6 linked regions of the Homo sapiens genome follow. The protein of the gene in region 1 purifies or fractionates together with the protein of each later gene. This does not show direct contact. Each region holds a gene or a part of one and is shown on either strand. Other genes may lie near its edges.

Region 1 (3,500 bases):
TAACTATTTCACCATTACATAAATTAGATGCTCTCCACATAAAATACGCATTGGATTCTAGTCTCTGCCCTGGAACTCACCAATTGTTTTGACCTTCAACAATTTACTTATAGTCTATAGGCCTGTTCCCTCATATATAATTTGAGCGGGCTCACTTGGGCCCCTACAATTCAGTTTCTACACAATTAACATGATTTACTCCAAATCAGAGTGGATTTTAGGATGAGGAACCAAAAGAGAAGACTTACAGAAGGCAGAGTTTTTCCTGAGAGTGAGAAAACCTGGAATATGGTAAGTATTTTAAGAAAGCGGGAGAAAAGAAAGTTTGTTGGCAAAAGAGTTGCTAAAATTTTGTTGTTAACATGTGGAATTCCTCTCTACCAACAATGTTGTAAGGCCAATAATCCCCACTTGCAGTCTTAACTTGTCTAGGGATAGGGGGCAATAAGAAGAGGCCTGAGACCAGTCTAGCTTGCAGAATCCTAGGACGTTTTATTAATTCATGATGCCCACTATCCTTGTGGGAGCAAGAATATGCGGCGTTTCAAGCTCCATTCAAAGAACTACATTTGACAAAGTTTTATATCAGTCCAAGAGCCCCCACCCCATCTCCCCACACAGCCTTGGAAGTCAAGAGCCTTAATCAGAAAACACATGAGAAGGCCAGGCATGGTAGCTCATGCCTGTAATCCCAGCACTTTGGGAGGCTGAGGTGCGCGGATCACCTGAGGTCAGGAGTTCGGGACCAGCCTGGCCAACATGGAAAAACCCCATCTCTACTAAAAATACAAAAATTAGCCAGGCCTAGTGGTGCATGCCTATAATCCCAGCTACTCAGGAGGCTGAAGCAAGAGAATCACTTGAACCCAGGAGGCAGAGGTTGCGGTGAGCTGAGATCGTGCCACTGCACTCCAGCCTGGGTAACAGAGCAAGACTCTGTCTCAAAAAAAAAAAAAAGAAAGAAAGAAAGAAAAAGAAAAAGAGAAAAGAAAACACATGAGAAGGTGGCTAACAGTAAAACCTTTGTTCAGCAGTTTATCTTACTACATGGTTATTTTTGTAGACTCTTGGTATCTTTTATCCTAAGACACCCACTTCTTGATTTCATGCAGCGCCACATGAACTATATATTATACATAAAGAAGAACAAAAAAGGGAATGCAGGTTATAACCATTGGCCCTTTAATTGAAGAGTCTAAAAACTAGAGGTCTGTAACAGAATACTAATCCTGCAGAACAAGGGACAGAAAAGTCAGGCGAGGCAAGCTTGTCTTCGTAACCTGGGCTCTCAATTGGGGTGCTCTCTTACATTTCAATTGAATATCTGTTTTTAAACCTCCCTTCAACAGTCAGGGTGTCTGTCTATTTTGTGGCTTCCAAAATTCTAACTGCAAAATAAATGACCATCTTATCATGTTTTCCCATGGCTATCAGGAGGATATAGCAATTTTATAGATTACTACATGGTCAAGAATCTACGCATCGGATGTATTCTTTTCTTCTTCTTTACTTGATGCATTCAAAAGCAACCACTGGATTTTTTTCAATGTAAAAAAGAAAAATAGATACCCATGCCAAAATTCATGGGTGTAAACAGCCAACAGAGCCAAACTTACAAAGAAAATGAAAGACTTGTTTCTGAACAGTGGTTTTATTGGTAAAGATATAAGACATATTGGCTCTATTAAAAACTCAGGTAATAAAGCACTAAGCTTGATTTTTGTATTGCTACAGTCTCTTTCTTCTAAGGGGAAGAAAATCTCCCCAAGAATAGGATGCTACCTGAGGAATTATGCCGAATAAAGAAAAGGAATGGATGGTCGGCAGTGAAATTTTCTTCGGGCATCAACATGCAGAAAGTTGCGATGCCTGCTGTGGCAGCTGCCGCCTCTGTTCCCTCTTCATTCACTTCCACAAATGACTTGTGGACAATTTTTGATATAAAAATATCTCTGGCTCCTGACATGCCAGACAGATCAGCCTTGCTACTGTTAAAGAGATCCTGCACACCTAGGCGGGCGAGGTCGGAGTTGAGAGTGTAACTCTCTTCCAGTTTGAACCTGGGCAAGCTGACATTAACTTCAATGAAATCGAGATTCTCAGGTTTAGTCCACTCATGCAACTTTTCCAAAGTCAACTGTTCCTCAATCTGCAATTAAAAATGAGGCGAAAGAGGAAGTGATATCAATTTTACATAAGTAAGGCAATAAAGTATTATTGAATCAATGGACCCATAATATCAGTTGCTAGTTAGTTTCCTTCATGTTTTGTGCCAAAACAGATTCCATTTGGAGCATTTTATTTCATTATGGCAATTGGTGAAATAGGGCAGAGGTGGTGTTCCAAGTCATCAAAGGTTCAAGGGATTTGTACATTGGGTCCATCATCCACTCACCCACCCATCCACCCATCCATCCACCCATTTGTCCACTCATCCATCCATCCATCCATCCATCCATCCATCCATCCATCCACCCAGCTACCCAGCAACACAGCCACCCATCCATCCATCCATTTATTCACCTATCTACCCACCCACCCATCCAACCATCTATCCACCTATTCATCATCCATCTACCCATCCACCCATCCATCCATCCATTCACCTATCCACCCACCCACCCATCCAACAATCTATCCACCTATCTATCATCCATCCACCCATTTACTCATCCACCCATCCACCCATCCATCTACCCATTCATCCATCCATCCATTCATCCAGGGTTTACTAAACCCCTACCACAATGGATTACAGTGATAGGTCATGACAGCTGCTATTACTTCCAGGTTGAGTAGTGCTAGAAGAAATTTAAAATATTTCTTCTATTTAGTCTGAATCCCACTGAAGCTGAAGTAATATCTAATAACTTTAGCTCCTAGGTAAAAATTTTAAAGGCAGATTATGCACTGGAGCTAGTTCCTCATCTGAAATGTGATGTGGACATTACTTATATCTACCTTATAGATTGTTGAGAGCATTAAATGAAATGATGTATATAAAGTGCTTGGCCCATAGTGCTACATAAATGTCAGCTATTATCATTACTATTGTTATAGCTATTGGACTGGAATAGAACCATCACTCTACTTCTTCTAATGGTGCTGATAATTCCTTTTAAGAGGCTAGAGATTTTCACTTTACAATCAGAAAAAAAACTAATGCAAAAATACAACCAAAAGAAAGGCCACATTGATTGTTATACAATGTATTAAAAGTCTGTACATGCAAATGATTAACATTAGACCCCCTTCCTGATAGCAAGGATGATGAATAGGTGGATAGGGAGGAGACGGAGAGCACAGAGCAGGCTAGAGTCCCTACATATAATGGAAACCTCATGCAAAGATCATACTAGTAAATAGGCCTAACATGTCACATGAGGCTTTTTCTGTCTTGTACCCATTGAAAATTTAATTCACTATCTATATGAATTGTGATGAGAACAAACAGTGTAATAATAGAATTTTATAGTACGTGATGAAGATATATGCTACAC
Region 2 (4,264 bases), about 130 Mb from region 1:
CAATAAGTTTATGTAATGATGGAATTGGAAACTTGTTCAAGAGGAATTCTAGAGAGTTGAATGAATCATAAAAATCTAAAAAAACCTTCAGACTACTGGGTATGTCAGAGTAGAAGCCAGGCGTGGTGGCTCATGCCTGTAATCTCAATACTTTGGGAGCTTGAGCCAAGAGGATTGCTTGAGCCCAGGAGTTCAAGACCAGCCTGGGCAACACAGTGAGACCCTCCCTCTCCACAAAGCATAAAAAAATTAGCTGGGCGTGGTAGTGCATGCCTGTGGTCTTAGCTATTGGGGAGGCTGAGGCTGGAGGATTTCTTGAGCCTGGGAGGTTGAGGCTGCAGTGAGTTACAATCACCACTGTACTCCAGCCTGGGTGACAGAGTGAGACCCTGATTCAAAAACAAACCAAAAAAGTGATTTTTTTTTTTGGAGGGGAGATGGGGAGAAAGAACAGAGCTGTCTTTTGTGTTTATGATAATTTTGATCTTGTTTCTTAATCTGCAAAACAAAGAAGAGCATACTGGTGAAAAATAAAAGGAATGTAGCCTAGAATTCTGTTCAAATCCAGCTTCTGGCACTAGCAACTGTGTTATCTTAGTGAAGTTACTTAACTCGTCCCTCAGCCTTACTTTCCTTGTGTTATGTATAACACAGATGATAGTGATACCTATCTTGTACGGTGTGTGTGTGTGTGTGAGAGAGAGAGAATTGAATGGAATGAGATAATACATGTGAAACCCCCGTCCATGAGAGCTTGGCATATAGTAGGTGCTCAACAAATGGCAGGGACTTCTCTTGTTCTCAGCAATAACACTTAACAGAGCATTGGTAGGTCTATCCCTTTTTGGTGCTGAAAAATATTTTGCTAAAACAAGACGTATATTTGAGATTGGCTTTATGTGAAAGACGACGACATTCCAGGACACACAATTTTTATGAGGGCATTTTTAACCGGACACAAGGATCAAGCCTTTCTCGTCGTCTGGATTGCAGAGTTTTGCCGCGGGTTCGTTGTTTTTTACTATGGCTAATTTTAACGCTGAACATGAAGGGGTTAAGAAATGCCTTTACTCATGTTACATTAAGTAGCAGAAATTATAAGATAGAGGAATTGGGGAGGGAAAAAAAAAAGCCTTGGCAGCAACTCATGGTTTCCTAAGTAAGACGGCTTGTAGTTACAGTGATGAGTTGAATATACGTTCTGGCAGTTTAATCTGATCAGACTAACTTGGGGGTGGGTGCAACCCGTCGCTTCCACCCTTCGCCTCCTTTAACCAAAGCCGCCCAGAGTGCAATTGTCCAGAGTTGAAACCATGCTGTGAGTTGCAGCTTCTAATTGGAGAGGCAGGAAGCCCTTCCCTGGACAGACCCCGCCCCTCCCCGTGTGAATCGCCAGCCTGCGGGGAGGAGCTGGCCAATGCTAATGAGCGAGTTGCCAGGCGAGACAGGAACTTCTTTCCCCTTCTCTGTGTCAGGATCGCAGAAAGTATGTCCCTTCTCTCACCATGAGCTGGCTCTCCAGTTCCCAGGGAGTGGTACTAACAGCCTACCACCCCAGCGGCAAGGACCAGACCGTCGGGAACAGCCATGCAAAGGCAGGGGAGGAAGCCACCTCGAGGTAAGCCTTCGGAAGCTGAAAACAAAACAAAACCCTCTTACCTGCTCCAGGAAGAAAGTGACAGGGAAGTTGGCGTGGGGAGAAGGGAATTCCATCTGCACGTCGAGCCTGAGCTCGTGCAGCAGCAGTAGCAACGTTTGGCGTGATTTTTATGTACTTTTCATCTCACCTAGTCCAAGTCTGAAATAACCCATATGATTACTGGTGAAGACAGAGAAGAAGGAACTGGGGAGAGGGCTATATGGGCTGTCAGACTAGCTATTTAGCAGGTGCATTTGCACATGCTGAAAGATCAAATAGGTCTATCTGAAACACTTCCTTTCCTATGAAATGGAATTCTTGAATGGGCTCAAGGCACTGCCACTGGAACTGTTCGCTGGGAAAGTCTGCCAAAAAGCAGGGAGGCTGTTCACTGTACTGTACAAGCTGTTGTTGTTAGAGTGTTTTTTTTCCCCCCTCTCTTTGCTGAAAGCAAACCTCTTAGGCAAAAAGCCCAAGACACTGGCCTGTGGCAATATGTTTCACATTCTTTTGTGTATGTGGATTTTTTTTCCCCCAGGCTTTCAAAAAGGAGTTTTTGTCAGGAGATAGCACTCTGCTGCTGGAGTGAAATGTGGTTAATGTTAAATCACTTTATAGGCAGAGAGGGCAAATGTTCTATAGACCACTGAGGCGCAAAGGGTACCTTTCTCCCTATCTGTGTACTTTGTTCCATTTTCCAAGGGCTTTTTTTTTTCTTTCTCTCCTTAATGACCTTCTCACTAGCTGAACATTTTTACCTCCATCAAGATATAAATAGTAAATATTGGCCTAGAAGATTGCAAGAAGCAAATACTAACCTAATAGCCTAGAACACTAAATTAGTTATCGGTAAGCACATTTCCTCCTCAATGCTTAATGTGATAATAAAACCTTCTTTGTTCTTATGTGACTTATGCCTGTGCCTTAAGCTGAAATAATGCTGCCTTTCATTTGTTTTAAAATCTCCAAATATGAGGGAGGGAGAAAAATCAAAGGAATGGCTGTAATACTCAGTGTTAGACTCCCAGCTGACGGGAACTGTTTCTCACATAGCATCCACAGTATGTATTTCATTGAATGAATTCATTTCCAAAGATAAAAAAGATTTGGTGCTTGTGCCTTAGCTGTGTTACCATTTCATTTTCCATCATTTTAAATGACTTAATGTTAAATCATTAAATCAAGAGATCTTGAAGTGTTTTCATCCATTTTTCTGTAATGTATTAGTAATCATTAAGCAGTAAAGCAGCCTGCAACACCAACCCCATACCCAGCCATAACTTGGATTCCACATGTCAGTCAAAATTGCCAAAATTATACAAGCTCAGGACATTCTCCGACTTTAGGCTGAATGGCCTGAGGACCTGAGCTGAATCTTGGATCTTGATTGTGAGAATGGAAAGGACCTTAAGGACTGAGTCCTAACCTCTCATTTTCACGTAGGACTCAAACCCCAGGGATTAGTTAAGTTTTTGGAAGGTCTGGAGTTCTAGGCCTTTGTCTGGGGCTGCATCTCCAGTTCTGGAGACTCATTATTCTGTGTTTGCAGTGTGGGTGGCCCATACTTGAGTGGGTTGAGAGAATAAGAGAGGATCAGATCATTCTCTGCCTAGGCTGAAGCAGAACCAAGAGGCACTAAGGTGGCAGGGTGGGCAGCTGCCCACACGGCAAGTGCCCTGTGTGGGGCCACAGCTCCAGGTGAGCTCCTTTGCTGGCTGTCACGTAGCCTGCCCATACCAGACCCAACTTCCCACCACTGAATTAGTTCTAGGGATCGTTCCTGATATTGACCGGAGAAGATGGGAGCCTGGTTTGAGGGCAGGGAGGAAGGAGGGAGTAGGGCTAGTTTTCAATGGCTTTTACCCTTAAGGGCTAACGAATCAGATAAACTTGTTGTTGTTTTGGGAGATACCCTGTTTAGCCTGAAAGGATTGAGATACTGTAATTGCTATGGGGGAGGGGATGGATAGAAGGAAGGAGGATTTGAAGGTGGGATGGGGTCCTCGGTGACCACCTAAGAATGGTGATAGTGGTTTCGGGGCGGTGAACTGGACTTTGGCTTTGGCTTTGGCTGGGTTGGTCAGGTGTTGTTTTAAGCCCTGGGAAGCTGCTCCAAGGTGCAAGGTTGATGGTTGATGCCTATTTAAAGAAGTTCTCCAAAAAGTAAAAACAAAACAAAACTCTTAAAAAGGCTACATTAGGCTGGGTGTGATGGCTCACACCTGTCATCTCAGCACTTTGGGAAGCTGAGGTGGGTGGATTGCTTGAGCTCAGGAGTTAGAGACCAGCCTGGGCAAAAAAAAGACCCCCGCCCCCACAGCTCTACCAAAAATACAAAAAAAAAAAAAAAAACAAGAAACCACAAACAAACTAGAAATGGTAGTGCATGCCCGTGGTCCCAGCTACTCAGGAGGCTGAAGTGTGAGGATCACTTGAGGCTGGTGGAGCAGAGATTGCAGTGAGCTGAGATCACGCCACTGCACTCCAGCCTGGGTGAGGGAGTGAGACCCTGTCTCAAAAAATAAATAAATAAATAAAAAATAAAAGCTAAATTAGATTCTGCATTTCCTCCTACCCATTTAAAAATTATAGAAGATAGCACGGAAGTATAACTTTTCTTATCAC
Region 3 (3,500 bases), on another chromosome or scaffold:
GGTAAAGGGACCATATGAGGGTCTAAGAGGGCACCAGCATGCCGGTGGTCCCATAGAACATACCTCGTCACAGCCAGCACATCGGGGTTTCTCGCTGTCACAGTAATGTCTGCCACAGTATAGCTTCTCATTCTTCCAAAAATAAATCATGTCAACCAGGAGTTCATGGCAGGTGCTGCAGACAAAACAAGCTGGGTGCCACAGTTTATCATAGCCAGCCCTTTCGGCATAGATGGCTGGGTCACCTTCTTTCATACTCAGTTTGCAGCAATAGCAGGACTGAAAGGGAAGCCATCCAGAACAACCTAGTCATTAGAAGACTGCCATTTCTTTTCTTTCTTTCTTTTTTTTTTTTTGAGACTGAGTCTCACTCTGTCGCCCAGGCTGGAGTCCAGTGGTGCTATCTCGGCTCATTGCAAGCTCCGCCTCCTGGGTTCACGCCGTTCTCCTGCCTCAGCCTCCCGAGTAGCTGGGACTACAGGCGCCTGCCACCACGCCCGGCTAATTTTTTTGTATTTTTAGTAGAGACGGGGTTTCACCGTGTTAGCCAGGATGGTCTCAATCTCCTGACCTCGTGATTCACCCGCCTCAGCCTCCCAAAGTGCTGGGATTACAGGCGTGAGCCACTGTGCCCAGCTAAGACTGCCATTTCTTATCATTGACTTCAGTAGAAATTCAGAGAAACAACTTTGAAGAGACATAATTTCTACTGAAATTACAAATTTGTCGATGTAGATAATAACGTATTAATAATTCTGTGAAATGGAATCTCAGCTTTCTCCCGGCTATTCAAATCTACTTCATTCACCCTGTGTGTAACAGGCATTATTTCCTGAATTAAGGTCACTTATGGAAAAAGGAAAATAGTAATTTTCAGGTCAATTTTAAGTAGATTCTCTAAAACTATCACCTCAGGGCTTATTAGTGCTCTTTTTTCAGGACTAAGCCTTATTGGTTGGTGTGCTAACTGGAGCTATGAGGAATATATTACAGCAGGTTTAGTTCTTATGTCTGTTCATCTGTGTCATAATTGCCTCCTACCATCAAGTCATTAGCAAAATACTTCAATTTCTCCCTTTAGAAGAGACTTAAAAAAAAGCTTCACTATATATCCACAAAAATTAAATTTAAGTTTGAATTTTAGGCACGTTCTCACAAGCAAAACTGAATTAACCTAAGCATATATTCCTATTTATGGGCAGCAGAGATAAGCAATTAATACCAACATTATGATTAGAAACAGACTATAGAATAATAATGCTGTCTTTGATCAGCATGCCAATACCAACTACTGTCTGTACATAAAACTCACTATCCACAATTATCCTTGATAATAAATACATAGAAAATTTGGCTTTAGACAGAAGTTTCAAACACGATGACCCTCTGTGGGAAGTCTAAACTGAATCTAAATCCTATTTATTCCCCATACTTATTCCCTTTTGGAAACTCAGAGGAATAGTCCCCAAAAAAGTTCAAAGTAAGGGAAAAAAATTCTGTAAAGTATACAAATCAGGCTAACAGTGTGACCACTCTACTTACATATTGAGTTCTTTTGTGCTCAGCAGATTTGTCCTCCATGGCCCCCACTGCTGCTGGGGTGCTTCTATCCCCTCCAGGAATGTTCATTTGTTTGGGGCCTTGGGCATCCATCTCACAGGGAAGTTTGACATCTCCTACTCCCAGAGCTTCGCTCTTATATTTCTTCACAAACTGCTCCATCTCCTTCACCTCTCTGGGAGACAACTCATGGCACTTTGAAGGGTCCTGGTCATGTGCAGGGAGCTGCTTTGCCAGCTGCTTCTTCCGGTACTGTGCCCCCTCTGAGCCTGCTACTGGCTGCTTTTCCTTGGGTAGCATCTGCATGTACTGCCTGGCCTGAACCACAAGGAGGCCAATGTTAACTGGGATTGGCCATTAGGCAGTGTGATGTTTCATAACACACATCAGAAGCAAGTTACTTAAGAAAGAAGTGGGTTCTATCCAATAGCAGCAACTCACCCTCACAGTATATTAAGAAGTTAAAACTCAAAAACGGTACACTAAATAGATTTAGTTGGGTAAAAAGTAACACTTTCTCTCCATGAAATTATATATTTTTTCAGTTTGTAAGATCTGAGTTACTACTGTTTACTTAAGCTAAATAAACAAATGTACAATTGAAAGAAAACATAAACTTTTAGGCAGACATGTTTGGAATGGTCTGTAGGACCAGGAACATTTTTATTACATAAAAAATGATATCGCAAAATTCACTTTAATGATTTAACTAACCTTAAAAGACTTCCAAATGTTTCATTTGGTTGTTATAATAGTGGAAGGAGCTTGATATAAAACTGTGATCTTTTTGGTCTTATATAGTATTAATAAAGGAAATGAAAAAAACACAAAGATAATGTTGAATATTTTTTTCAGTTCTAAACTATGACAAAAATTCTCTTCTTTACCATCTTAAGATAAATCCTCTCAAGACTAAGCTAGAAGAGTTACTAGATTGATATAAAACATCTGATTTCCATCTAATTATTAAGAACGTTAGACCATTCCCTCAAAAAGGTAAACATATCTAGGGAGTTGGAAAAATTTTATGAAGTATCTAGTCTTACATTCAAAAGACTAGAACAGGAATCAGAAGTCAAAGTAATGAGAACCCCGGAAGAATAACAGATCTGGGATGTGTGAAGTTGATTAGGTCATCAAAGAAACTGCCCCAAATAAATACTCCAGGAACTTCAATAAAGAAACTCTCTGTTCCATATCATTTACCAATGCTTGATTCTGGACAGGAGGAGCCCACTCATAGGTAACTGTATTGATGGAGACATTCTTCTTGGCAGCAACTGGATTCGTCAATATCATAACATTGCGTTTATACATGGGAATTCCATCTGACTTTAGTTTTGCAATCAGAGTGGTATACTTGGTGTCTTCAAAAAGTTTTCCCACTTTTCGATCCTCTTCATTGCTCAAGAGGACATCATGCTCTTCTTGGCCACACTTGCAGTTACGACATATTTTTCTATAATTTTGAAAATAAGTAGAAAATGATTAATTGTACCTAATTGATATTTATGTTCATACATTTATAGTTCATAAAATACTTTTAGGCCTATTCTATATCATGGTATGCAAAGGCAAGTCCTTTTTTAGGAGGGAGAATAAGTATCCATATATTTAAGCAAGAAGGAAACAAAACACGACTTTGCTTGATAAGGCTTTTAAAAGCTAGGTTGTAAAAATTGAAAGAGGGACCCAATTAAACTGAAGAGCTTCTACAAAGCAAAAGAAACTGGCAACAGGACAAACAGACAACCTATAGAATGGAAGAAAATATTTGCAAATCCTGCAACTGACAAAGGTCTAATATTCAGAATCTATAAGGAACAATTCAACAAGCAAAAGACAACCCCATTAAAAAATGGGCAAAGGACATGAACAGATATTTCTCAAAAGAAGATATACATATGGCCAAAAAATATATGAAAACATGCTCAATATCA
Region 4 (2,643 bases), on another chromosome or scaffold:
ATGCAGATACGTCCGTGCACCGGCACAAACTCGGACACGTGTAGATACACGGGCAAAACGCACTCATGTAGACAAGGACTAAAGCAGCCACCTCAGCAGGCGTGCAGTCACACACGTATACACACCACAGGTGTGTGTGTACAAACGTTGCACTTTAACTTATCTAGATTCAATTAGTGTACACGTGTATGCCACACAAAGACTTTTTTTTTTTTTTGAGATGGAGTCTTGCTCTGTCACCCAGGCTGGAGTGCAGTGGCGCAATCTCGGCTCACTGCAACCTCTCCCTCCCAGGTTCAAGCGATTCTCCTGCCTCAGCCCCGAGTAGCTGCGATTACAGGAGCCTGCCACCACGCCAAGCTAATTTTTGTATTTTTAGTAGAGACGGGGTTTCACCATATTGGCCAGGCTGGTCTTGAACCCCTGACCTCAGGTGATCCGCCCACCCTGGCCTCCCAAAGTGCTGGGATTACAGGCGTGAGCCACCGCGCCCGGCCCAGACACAGACTTATACATGGGCACACACACAGACACACAGGGACACATGCCTGTCTCCAGGCATGCACACAGACCCCCCCGCCAACCTGCAAGGTGTCCCTGTATGACATGGGTCTTGACAGTGACCACGTTTCCCCATCAGGTCCTGCACCCTGCACAGGTGGCCCCAAGCCGCTGTCACCTGCGTCTAGCCAGGACAAGCTGCCCCCACTGCCCCCACTACCGAACCAGGAAGAGAACTACGTGACCCCCATTGGAGATGGCCCAGCTGTTGACTATGAGAACCAAGATGGTGGGTGGGGAACAGAGCTGCTGAGAGCTGGGGGTTGGGGAAACAGGTTAACAGCTGATGTGACACGTTACACTTTTGTCCACGCAGTGGCTTCCTCTAGTTGGCCAGTCATCCTGAAGCCAAAGAAGTTGCCAAAGCCTCCTGCCAAGCTTCCAAAGCCACCCGTTGGACCCAAGCCAGGTTGGGGTCCCCCCCATATCCCACCCTCACCTGATGGCAGGCCAGCCTCAGCCCTCATCTGACTTTTTTTTTTTTTTTTGAGACAGTCTCACTCTGTCGCCCAGGCTGGAGTGCAGTGGCACAACCTTGGCTCACTGCAAGCTCCGCCTCCTGGGTTCACGCCATTCTCCTGCCTCAGCCTCTCCAGTAGCTGGGACTACAGGTGCCCGCCACCATGCCCAGCTAATTTTTTTTTTTGTATTTTTAGTAGAGACGGGGTTTCACCATGTTAGCCAGGATGGTCTTGATCTCCTGACCTCGTGATCCGCCCACCTCGGCCTCCCAAAGTGCTGGGATTACAGGCGTGAGCCACCGCACCCAGCTCATCTGTCTTTATTGTTGTTTTTTGTTTTGAGATGGAGTCTCACTCTGTTGCCCAGGCAGTGGCGCGATCTCAGCTCACTGCAACCTCTGTCTGCCGGGTTCAAGTGATTCTCCTGCCTCAGCCTCCCAAGTAGCTGGGATTACAGGCACCTGCCACCACGTCCATCTAATTTTTGTATTTTTAGTAGAGAAGGGGTTTCACCATGTTGCCCAGGCTGGTCTCGAACTCCTGACCTCAAGTGATCCACCCACCTCAGCCTCCCAAAGTGCTGGGATTACCGGCGTGAGCCACCACACCTGGCCTCATCTGTCTTCTCTTCCAGAGCCCAAAGTCTTTAATGGTGGCTTGGGCAGGAAGCTGCCAGTCAGTTCAGCCCAGCCTCTCTTCCCCACAGCCGGTAAGGGGTCTGCGGGGTCAGTGCGGGGCGGGCTTCCCAGGTGTGTGACCGTACAGTCACACAAGTCCCCACACTCCGAAGCGCCCTGTCTTTTAAGGTTCTGCTGTCTCTGTCTTGAAATTCTTAATGCCTTCGAGCACACTGTCCTGTTGCACGGGGCCCTGCAAATCTGTAGCTGGTCCTGGGTGGCTGTCAGGGCGGTGGGCATGGACTGGGGATCCCTGAGCCAGCTGCAGCTCCTGGTCCTGAACCCCCAGGGCTGGCAGACATGACGGCAGAGCTACAGAAGAAGCTGGAGAAGAGGCGGGCACTGGAGCACTGATTCGGACACACCAGGGACCAGCGGGCTAGTCCCAGGGCATGGCCCAGCGGCCAGATTCTTTTTCCCAGGATTAAAACTCTGACCCCAGGACCCATGTGTCTGGCTTGGCTTGGGGGATTAGGGGACGAGGGGTCCGTCAGATGTCTGCCTACGGATGGCCCCATTTACTCCCAGTGACCCTCAGCTCAGTGAAATCTACCACCATATTCTGTGAGAAAAGCCCATTTTACAGCTGGGAAGGATGAGGTCCCGGTGCCACACCCAGGCCCAAAGAACCAGCACCGCGGCCTCGCCTGGCCAGTGTCTGACCTTTATTAAGAGGTGAGGTGGGGAGAGGGCCCGCCAGGGTGCCCACTCCCTCTTGGTGACCCCCCCATCTGGAGTTAAGGCTCCAAGCAGCAAGTGACAGAGGAGGGTGCCTGGCTCCAGCAGCCTGGGCTTGGCGGCGACTCCCCCAAAAACACCCCAGCTGGGTGGGTGCCTGGGGGCCTAGGTGAGGCTGGTGTTGGAGCTGCTGGTAGCACTGCCTCGCTTTTGCAGGCAGCGCACAGCACTGGGGACCTGCAGGCCTGTCGTCACCTGGAAGCTGC
Region 5 (3,121 bases), on another chromosome or scaffold:
ATGCAAGCTGAGCATGTAAACAGCTCGTTTGTTTGCTCTCCTAAGATCTTGATTCCTTTTTCTTTGGGAAGTCTGTTAGCGCTGTCATTACTCCACACATTGGCATTTGGACCCACTTTTAACACACTTTATTTTGGAGAGACTTCAGATAGTGGACAAACTAAAGAATTTAAAATGAAACTCAAACAATTCCCAGAACATTATTCTATAAGCAGCTTGGAGACGATAGTTTGAAAAGTAATTCAGTGTCCTGTTTCTTCCTCAGGCTTCAGGGATGACTTCTTAGGGGGCAGGGGAGGTAGTCGCCCAGGCGACCGGCGAACAGGCCCCCCCATGGGCAGCCGCTTCAGAGATGGCCCTCCCCTCCGTGGATCCAACATGGATTTCAGAGAACCCACAGAAGGTACGGGCTCATGTGTCAGTGGAGGGCATCTTGTCCTGATGGGATGATCATGGCCGGTTCACACCCCGTGGGGACTTGGCGTTCTACGGCACACAGAGTTGTCGGCATAGATCCCCACGTTCTCTGGAATAGCAAGTTCACCTTGGTCATTAGAGCATCTGCTGTTGGGGTAGCAGGCCAGGTGAATTTTAGAAAGTGGGCTGGTTTGCTGACAGCAACATCAGCATGGTCGTTTTGCTGGATATGGAATGGGATCCACACTCTGACAAACTCTGCTTTTTCTCCCCCAGAGGAAAGAGCACAGAGACCACGACTCCAGCTTAAACCTCGAACAGTCGCGACGCCCCTCAATCAAGTAGCCAATCCCAACTCTGCTATCTTCGGGGGTGCCAGGCCTAGAGAGGAAGTCGTTCAAAAGGAGCAAGAATGAGCCTGCGGTTGGGAGGGAATGGGGCGTGGGGGGTTAGAGCAGGACCACAGCCTGGTGAGTCCCCGGGCAGCCGTCCTGCAGCCGCCACTCCTGCGCCTGCCATTGGCCTCCTCACAGCGGAAACACAGCTTGTGAGTGCATGTCAGCTGTTAACAAGTGGTTTTTAGTACATTCTGGGCTTTGCTGTATCTATCTAGTGCCTGTTTGTGCGTTTTTTTCTTTCTTCCGCTGCTTCCCCATTTTCCTTCTGTCCTTTTTCTCCTGCTCCTTGTTTTCCCAGCAGCACATGGGGTTCCTCGGAGGAGCAGAGGTGGCCGCCGTGGGGGGGCGTTTGGGCTGCGGTGCTGCGTCATTTTTCCTTTGCTTTCTCTTTACTTTAGACACTGGCCCAACTCCAGGCGTTTCCTTTCATTCCCTCAGTGCTTCTCTTCTGACCTGCATGTTGAGTTCTGTATTGCTGGGGCTTCCAACAAAAACCAGAGTCACTGACAGAGGGAACAGCAGAGACCTTGTTGGTATTCAGCTGTGATGGATATAGAGAATCAGAGGCACCTTGTTTTCACAACTAGGATAAAAATATCTGCAGGGTCCTTTCCATTCCTATTTAGAGGGAGTCCTGGCTCCATGACCCCCTCCCGAGTGGACTGTCCAAGCAGATAGGCTCACACGAGAAACAGTGAGGCTGAAAGGGGGGGCTATGGAAGAGCGGTAGGGAGTCCACGGAGAAGATGCAGTGAATGCTTGCATGCATTCACACGTGTGTGTGTCCCAGCTAGTTCACTCCTTTCGCCGTGCGTGGTGGAGGCTGGCCTCTCTGGCTGGGTGCAGTGAATGGCCAGCGGGTTTCTTTTCTGCTGGGCCAAGGCGCTTTGGGGGTGGAGGGGGTGGTGCTGGTGCTGCACTGGGCTGACTGCGGCGCTGACGCAGCGTTTCCCCCCATCCCTGTTGCCTGTGTGTTGTGTGGATCTGTTCCTAGTATAGGCAACATAATGAGATACTGTGCTTCCCACCTCCCCTTCAGTTCAGAGCCAAAATGGGTCTAGAATCTGGCACTTTACTCATTTCCTTTGATAAATTGTACTATGCAGAGCTGTCAGGAACCTTCAGATAGCAGTAGAGGACTGCAGCTGTCTAGGTCTGCGGCCACATCTTGGGGACACACTGGACTGTTCCCATGTGCAGGGTTCAGCAGTTATGTGGGAGTGCTAGGGGTTAGGCTTTTGAGCTTGAACGCCTGCGTGTGAACAGATGAAAAATCCTTCAGTACCCAAGTCCCAGTCTGTCCTATGGGGAGCAGTTTGGGGGCGGCCGGCAGCAGGAGCCTGGGAAAGAGGCCCTCGCCAGGTGATGGCAGGGCCAGGGTGGCCTGGGGCACCCAGCGGAATGTGCTTAGTATTTGGTCACCAGCCGTCATCCTGGGCTTTTCCTACTGTGTCTTGTTACAAGGCCTCAGCAATCCACAGAACTCTCTCTCCTTCCTTCCACCTGTCAGCTTCTCTGCTTCTGAGATAAGAACCATTTGTGTAACACCAACACTTAACTTCAGAAAGACATGCATTATGTGGTGTAATCAAACCCGATGCTTTCAGATGACCTACTTACATCTTCAATGTGGATAAGATAAAGAACAAAACACATGCATCTAAACTGCTGGGCAATCCAGTTGACTTTTAAATGTAAGAATGGAATTCCAAACACTTAACACATTCAGCTATATGACAGAAAGTAAATCTATGGATATGGTATTTTGTGAATGATCTTTTAAATAAAAGAAAACCTTACGTAATATTTAATGCTTGCCTTTATTTTTGAGTTCTTTTTAGCTGCTCATGGAATGTAACAATTTTAAATTTGGGAAGCACCATTGAAATGGAAGAGTCTTCCTGTCATTTTAATTCTGGGATGAGTGAAGTTATTTTAAAAGCTGGTGATGATTAGAAATAGGATGCCAATTTTTTCCCCTCACTTGCTAAAAATGTCCTTTTCCCAACCAGGCAGAAACCTTGAAAGTCTGGCTGTTTTTGGTTAGGTAAAGGAACATTTTTTTCCCAAGATGGAAGAAATCAAGCATTTACACAACATGTGGCTTCTTTTAACAACTGCTTGTAAACGAAATTCTAGGTGCCCCTCATGGCTGGGAGGGCTGCTGCTTCCTGACAGCAGATCCTGACTCTGGGGAGGTGCTGCTATAGGTTGGTATTGGATAGTGTTAAAATTGACTTAGGCAGACAAAGAAGAGCTGAGTGGGCAAGGTGCGGGGCATGAATGCGTGTTTGGCAAAGTCCTGG
Region 6 (3,500 bases), on another chromosome or scaffold:
TTTATATGAGCCAAGGGGGTAAGTTGGCTTTTTTTTTTTTTTTTTTGGAATTAGCTTAATAAAAGGAGGTTAGGAGGAGGGCAGCAATCAGGAGAAAAAGAAGCCAAACTGAAGGCTATACTGAAATATGAGAAATGAAAAAAGGGATGTTTTTAAATTTTATAATGTAAATTGTAATAAATTGGTATATTTGTTGCTTGTGTTTGTTTTTCCCCTACAGACGTATGACCTTAGCAGACATTGAACGGATTGCTCCTCTGGAAGAGGGAACTCTGCCCTTTAACTTGGCTGAGGCCCAGAGGCAGGTGAGCAAAGAGGAGCAAACTTGCATTCTGGGGTTTCCTTAGCAGGATACCCCAACCCTGTTCCACTTGCAGTTGCCTTTGCGGCATTGGTATCTGACTTAACCATTTTTCTGTTTTGCACCAAAACTCTCGATAAATTTTAAAGGCTGTAAAGAGAAATTGCTTAGAAATGGTGTGATAAACAGGTATTTGGCATTTGCTCATTTCTTGCTAAGGTGGAGTGATTTCCTAACTGCACCAGAAGCCTAATGCTCCGAAAACATGAAGGAGGTCTTTTCTCCTTTCTTGAAGTCTCATGTTGAGAGATGTAGCGAAAGAATCCCGTGTTGGTGTCACTGTGCCTGTCGGCAGCTGCACGTTGCTAAATGAAAGCCGTCTTTGCTCTGTGGAGCAGCCCTTCATCAGCGCATCGTCTAACTGCCATGCCTTCCGTTTTTCTGAATATCAAAATGAGATAATTTTGTTTAGTCTGGAGTTACAGTTTAAAGGCTTTCAGACCTATTTTCTCTGTGAAAGGATTCATAAGTTATATGGAAACAATTTTAGGAATGCTAAATTTTATTTTATGGTTAACAGAAACCAATCTCTTGAAGTTGTGGGAGTCAGAAACTTAAGACATGGAACTTTCTCCTTTAACTCTTACCCAGCTTTCTGTAGATCAGGATTAGAGAAGAAAAGCCTTCATAGCATGTGTTAGTAAAATAAATGGTGTTTGTAAAATAAATCCACTCACAGGCGAGTGTCGTTTTTAGAAAAATTTCTCCTTTTAGGCAGAGCCATCTCTGAATCCTGTGAGACTTCGCAGTTTCTGGCATGGAGCTCTGGGTTTGTACAGAGACGCCAGTGTGACCACAATGGGTTGCTGCAGGCTACACTTTTAGGACTGTCAGACCTTGAGCCAGGGCCCCCTTCTTTTAGCTCTTTCCCACCCAAATGCAGCGGTGAGTTTTGTGTGCAGCATGCAAGTCAAAGTAGTGGGTGTGTGCTCAGTAAATTCTAACGAGCACCTCTGGAAAACCAGCTGGCCTTGCTTAAAAGAGGAAGCCGATTTCTCTGAGTGCAGGAGAAATAACTATAATCACGTGTAGAGGTGGAAGCAACACTGCTCTCCCTTCCCTTTGATTTTTAACACTGCTTAGGAGATGATTATCTCTTCGTCTGTATGCCACCAGCTATTGTAGAAATTTGGGGATTAAGAGAAGCAGAGAAGTTTTTTTTAGATCCCTCCTACTCTTCAGCTGGCAGCGGCTTCCCACAATTTTTCCTTTAAGCTCTTTGCAGCTTTTGAGAGTTTATGATGGGTGCTTGTTGATACTGGCCATGAAAGGGTTAGACCAGATTGATGAGATTTATAGCAGGAAATGATTCGCTGCCGCTTAGAGGTTTAGAGCAATTCACAATGGCCTTACCTGGAATAGGCTTTTTACTGCATGAACCCTAGTGGGCCCGACAAATTCAAGCAAGGGAGGTCGTCCACCTGTGGGCACAGCGCTGCCTGTCCAGCACTGTGCAGCACTTGTAGCATTTATCCTGGACAGAGGAGTGAAGGAGCAGAGTTTTGTCTCATTTCAAGAACATGCTACAGTTCTGGCTTTGGAAAAGTTAAATAAAAGTCTAGGATTTCATTTGTCTTTTAGGAGAGGAATTAATGGTGGTGGTAGGTCCCTCCTCCCCCCACCCTCTATAATTTTCAGAGTATTTTCACTCATTATTTTGATGCCAGAACATTTCTAAGTATTGCATATTTATATCCCTGTAAATAAAATATTGCTTCTCTTTTGGATGCATCTGTCAAAATGAAGGTACTATTGATTTCCATCTATATAGGGCTACAGTTGGAAACAACTCATAGAATTTGCAAAAGAAATGTTTTGTATCTTAAAGAGGCATATTTCTATGTAAAGCTATTTTCAGTTAAGTGACTTTGAAGGAGATTCCAAATGATCTCATTGTATTAGAATTGTGTTACATTGACAGCAACTAAAATTCAGTGGGTTGATAGCTGGGGTTGCTGATTATTTTCATTGTTCACTGATTTTAATTATCATGGATTCTGAAAAACAAATTTTATTGAATGTATGTATTCATTCAACAGGTATTTATTAAGCACTGACTATATGTCACCCTCATTTGACAACTCTCTGTGACATAAAATTACTGTTTTATTTATGCAGACAGAGAAGTGCAGCACTCTGAAATGTTCTGGCATCAAAAACACTGTGAGGATAATAGGTCAAAAGAACCAGAAAACAATGACTGACTGACCTGAAGTATGAATTTAGAAAAGATGGACAAAAAAAGAGAAAAAGTAACGATCAACTGTAATACAGCCACCTAGTTTTAGCTACTGTAAATGTTTTGAGTATCTCTGGGTGGTAGGGAGGCAAAATATTAGTATTAATTTTATATGCATATATATGTAAACCTCTTACAAGCATTTTTAATAAAAAGTGACATCATTTTGTATATAGTCTTAAAAATTGTTTTTAAAAAAATTACCAGGAAATAGGTCAAACATTTAAATAGGTACAAAGAATCATATGACAAATACCTATCTACTTACCATGCTCTTTTTAGCCTATGTTTTCTTTTATAATTCCTTGTGAACATTTAATATCAAATATTCTTTTACAGTATCATTTTGAATGATAGGGTTTTGTTTTAAAGTTATTATTTTTAAAGGCTATAGTCCTCCGTTATTGGACATTTAGAATATTTCCCAAATTTTTGTTCTTTTTGTTTAAAGAGCAAAAATTTGGGAAATAATCGAAATTTCCAATAAGTACTACAAATGTTTTTTAAGTGCTACATTCTTGTAGCTTGTTACATGCATGATTATCTTCTATCCTAACTTTTTTCTTTTTGAGACGGAGTTTCACTCTTCTTGCCCAGGCTGGAGTGCAGTGGCGCGATCTTGGCTCACTGCAGCCTCCGCCTCCCAGGTTCAAGTGATTCTCCTGCCTCAGCCTCCCAAGTAGCTGAGATTACAGGCATGCGCCACCACGTCCGGCTAATTTTTTATTTTTAGAAGAGACGGGGTTTCTCCATGGTGGTCAGGCTGGTCTCGAACTCCTGACCTCAAGTGATCCACCCACCTCGGCCTCCCAAAGTGCTGGGATTACAGGTGTGAGCCACTGCACCCAGCCTATTCTAACTTCAGAGGTTATGTACATTTTAAGGGTTTGGGTGTATATT

Evidence for each region.
Region 2: the proteins of SERPINB1 (region 1) and ARHGAP18 fractionate together in Homo sapiens (co-fractionation; one large-scale study listed by BioGRID). This does not show direct contact.
Region 3: the proteins of SERPINB1 (region 1) and TES fractionate together in Homo sapiens (co-fractionation; one large-scale study listed by BioGRID). This does not show direct contact.
Region 4: the proteins of SERPINB1 (region 1) and STAP2 fractionate together in Homo sapiens (co-fractionation; one large-scale study listed by BioGRID). This does not show direct contact.
Region 5: the proteins of SERPINB1 (region 1) and EIF4H fractionate together in Homo sapiens (co-fractionation; one large-scale study listed by BioGRID). This does not show direct contact.
Region 6: the proteins of SERPINB1 (region 1) and SLC25A13 purify together in Homo sapiens (co-immunoprecipitation; one large-scale study listed by IntAct). This does not show direct contact.

What each region holds. Positions count from the first base shown.
Region 1 is NC_000006.12:2,831,864-2,835,363, forward strand, and holds the end of SERPINB1 (leukocyte elastase inhibitor), read right to left. Parts: intron 2,150-3,500; coding exon 1,745-2,149; 3' UTR 469-1,744; downstream 1-468.
Region 2 is NC_000006.12:129,707,378-129,711,641, reverse strand, and holds the start of ARHGAP18 (rho GTPase-activating protein 18), read left to right. Parts: upstream 1-1,464; 5' UTR 1,465-1,505; coding exon 1,506-1,618; intron 1,619-4,264. UniProt on the Homo sapiens protein: Rho GTPase activating protein that suppresses F-actin polymerization by inhibiting Rho. Rho GTPase activating proteins act by converting Rho-type GTPases to an inactive GDP-bound state.
Region 3 is NC_000007.14:116,248,539-116,252,038, reverse strand, and holds part of TES (testin), read right to left. Parts: intron 3,020-3,500; coding exon 2,767-3,019; intron 1,879-2,766; coding exon 1,543-1,878; intron 280-1,542; coding exon 64-279; intron 1-63. UniProt on the Homo sapiens protein: Scaffold protein that may play a role in cell adhesion, cell spreading and in the reorganization of the actin cytoskeleton. Plays a role in the regulation of cell proliferation. May act as a tumor suppressor. Inhibits tumor cell growth.
Region 4 is NC_000019.10:4,323,543-4,326,185, reverse strand, and holds the end of STAP2 (signal-transducing adaptor protein 2), read left to right. Parts: intron 1-640; coding exon 641-790; intron 791-877; coding exon 878-970; intron 971-1,518; coding exon of another isoform or gene 1,519-1,656; coding exon 1,657-1,731; intron 1,732-1,988; coding exon 1,989-2,053; 3' UTR 2,054-2,143; downstream 2,144-2,643. Other genes in the region: FSD1 (fibronectin type III and SPRY domain-containing protein 1), read right to left, coding at 2,543-2,643. UniProt on the Homo sapiens protein: Substrate of protein kinase PTK6. May play a regulatory role in the acute-phase response in systemic inflammation and may modulate STAT3 activity.
Region 5 is NC_000007.14:74,194,476-74,197,596, forward strand, and holds the end of EIF4H (eukaryotic translation initiation factor 4H), read left to right. Parts: intron 1-265; coding exon 266-403; intron 404-693; coding exon 694-833; 3' UTR 834-2,621; downstream 2,622-3,121. UniProt on the Homo sapiens protein: Stimulates the RNA helicase activity of EIF4A in the translation initiation complex. Binds weakly mRNA.
Region 6 is NC_000007.14:96,186,099-96,189,598, reverse strand, and holds part of SLC25A13 (electrogenic aspartate/glutamate antiporter SLC25A13, mitochondrial), read left to right. Parts: coding exon 1-18; intron 19-220; coding exon 221-305; intron 306-3,500. UniProt on the Homo sapiens protein: Mitochondrial electrogenic aspartate/glutamate antiporter that favors efflux of aspartate and entry of glutamate and proton within the mitochondria as part of the malate-aspartate shuttle.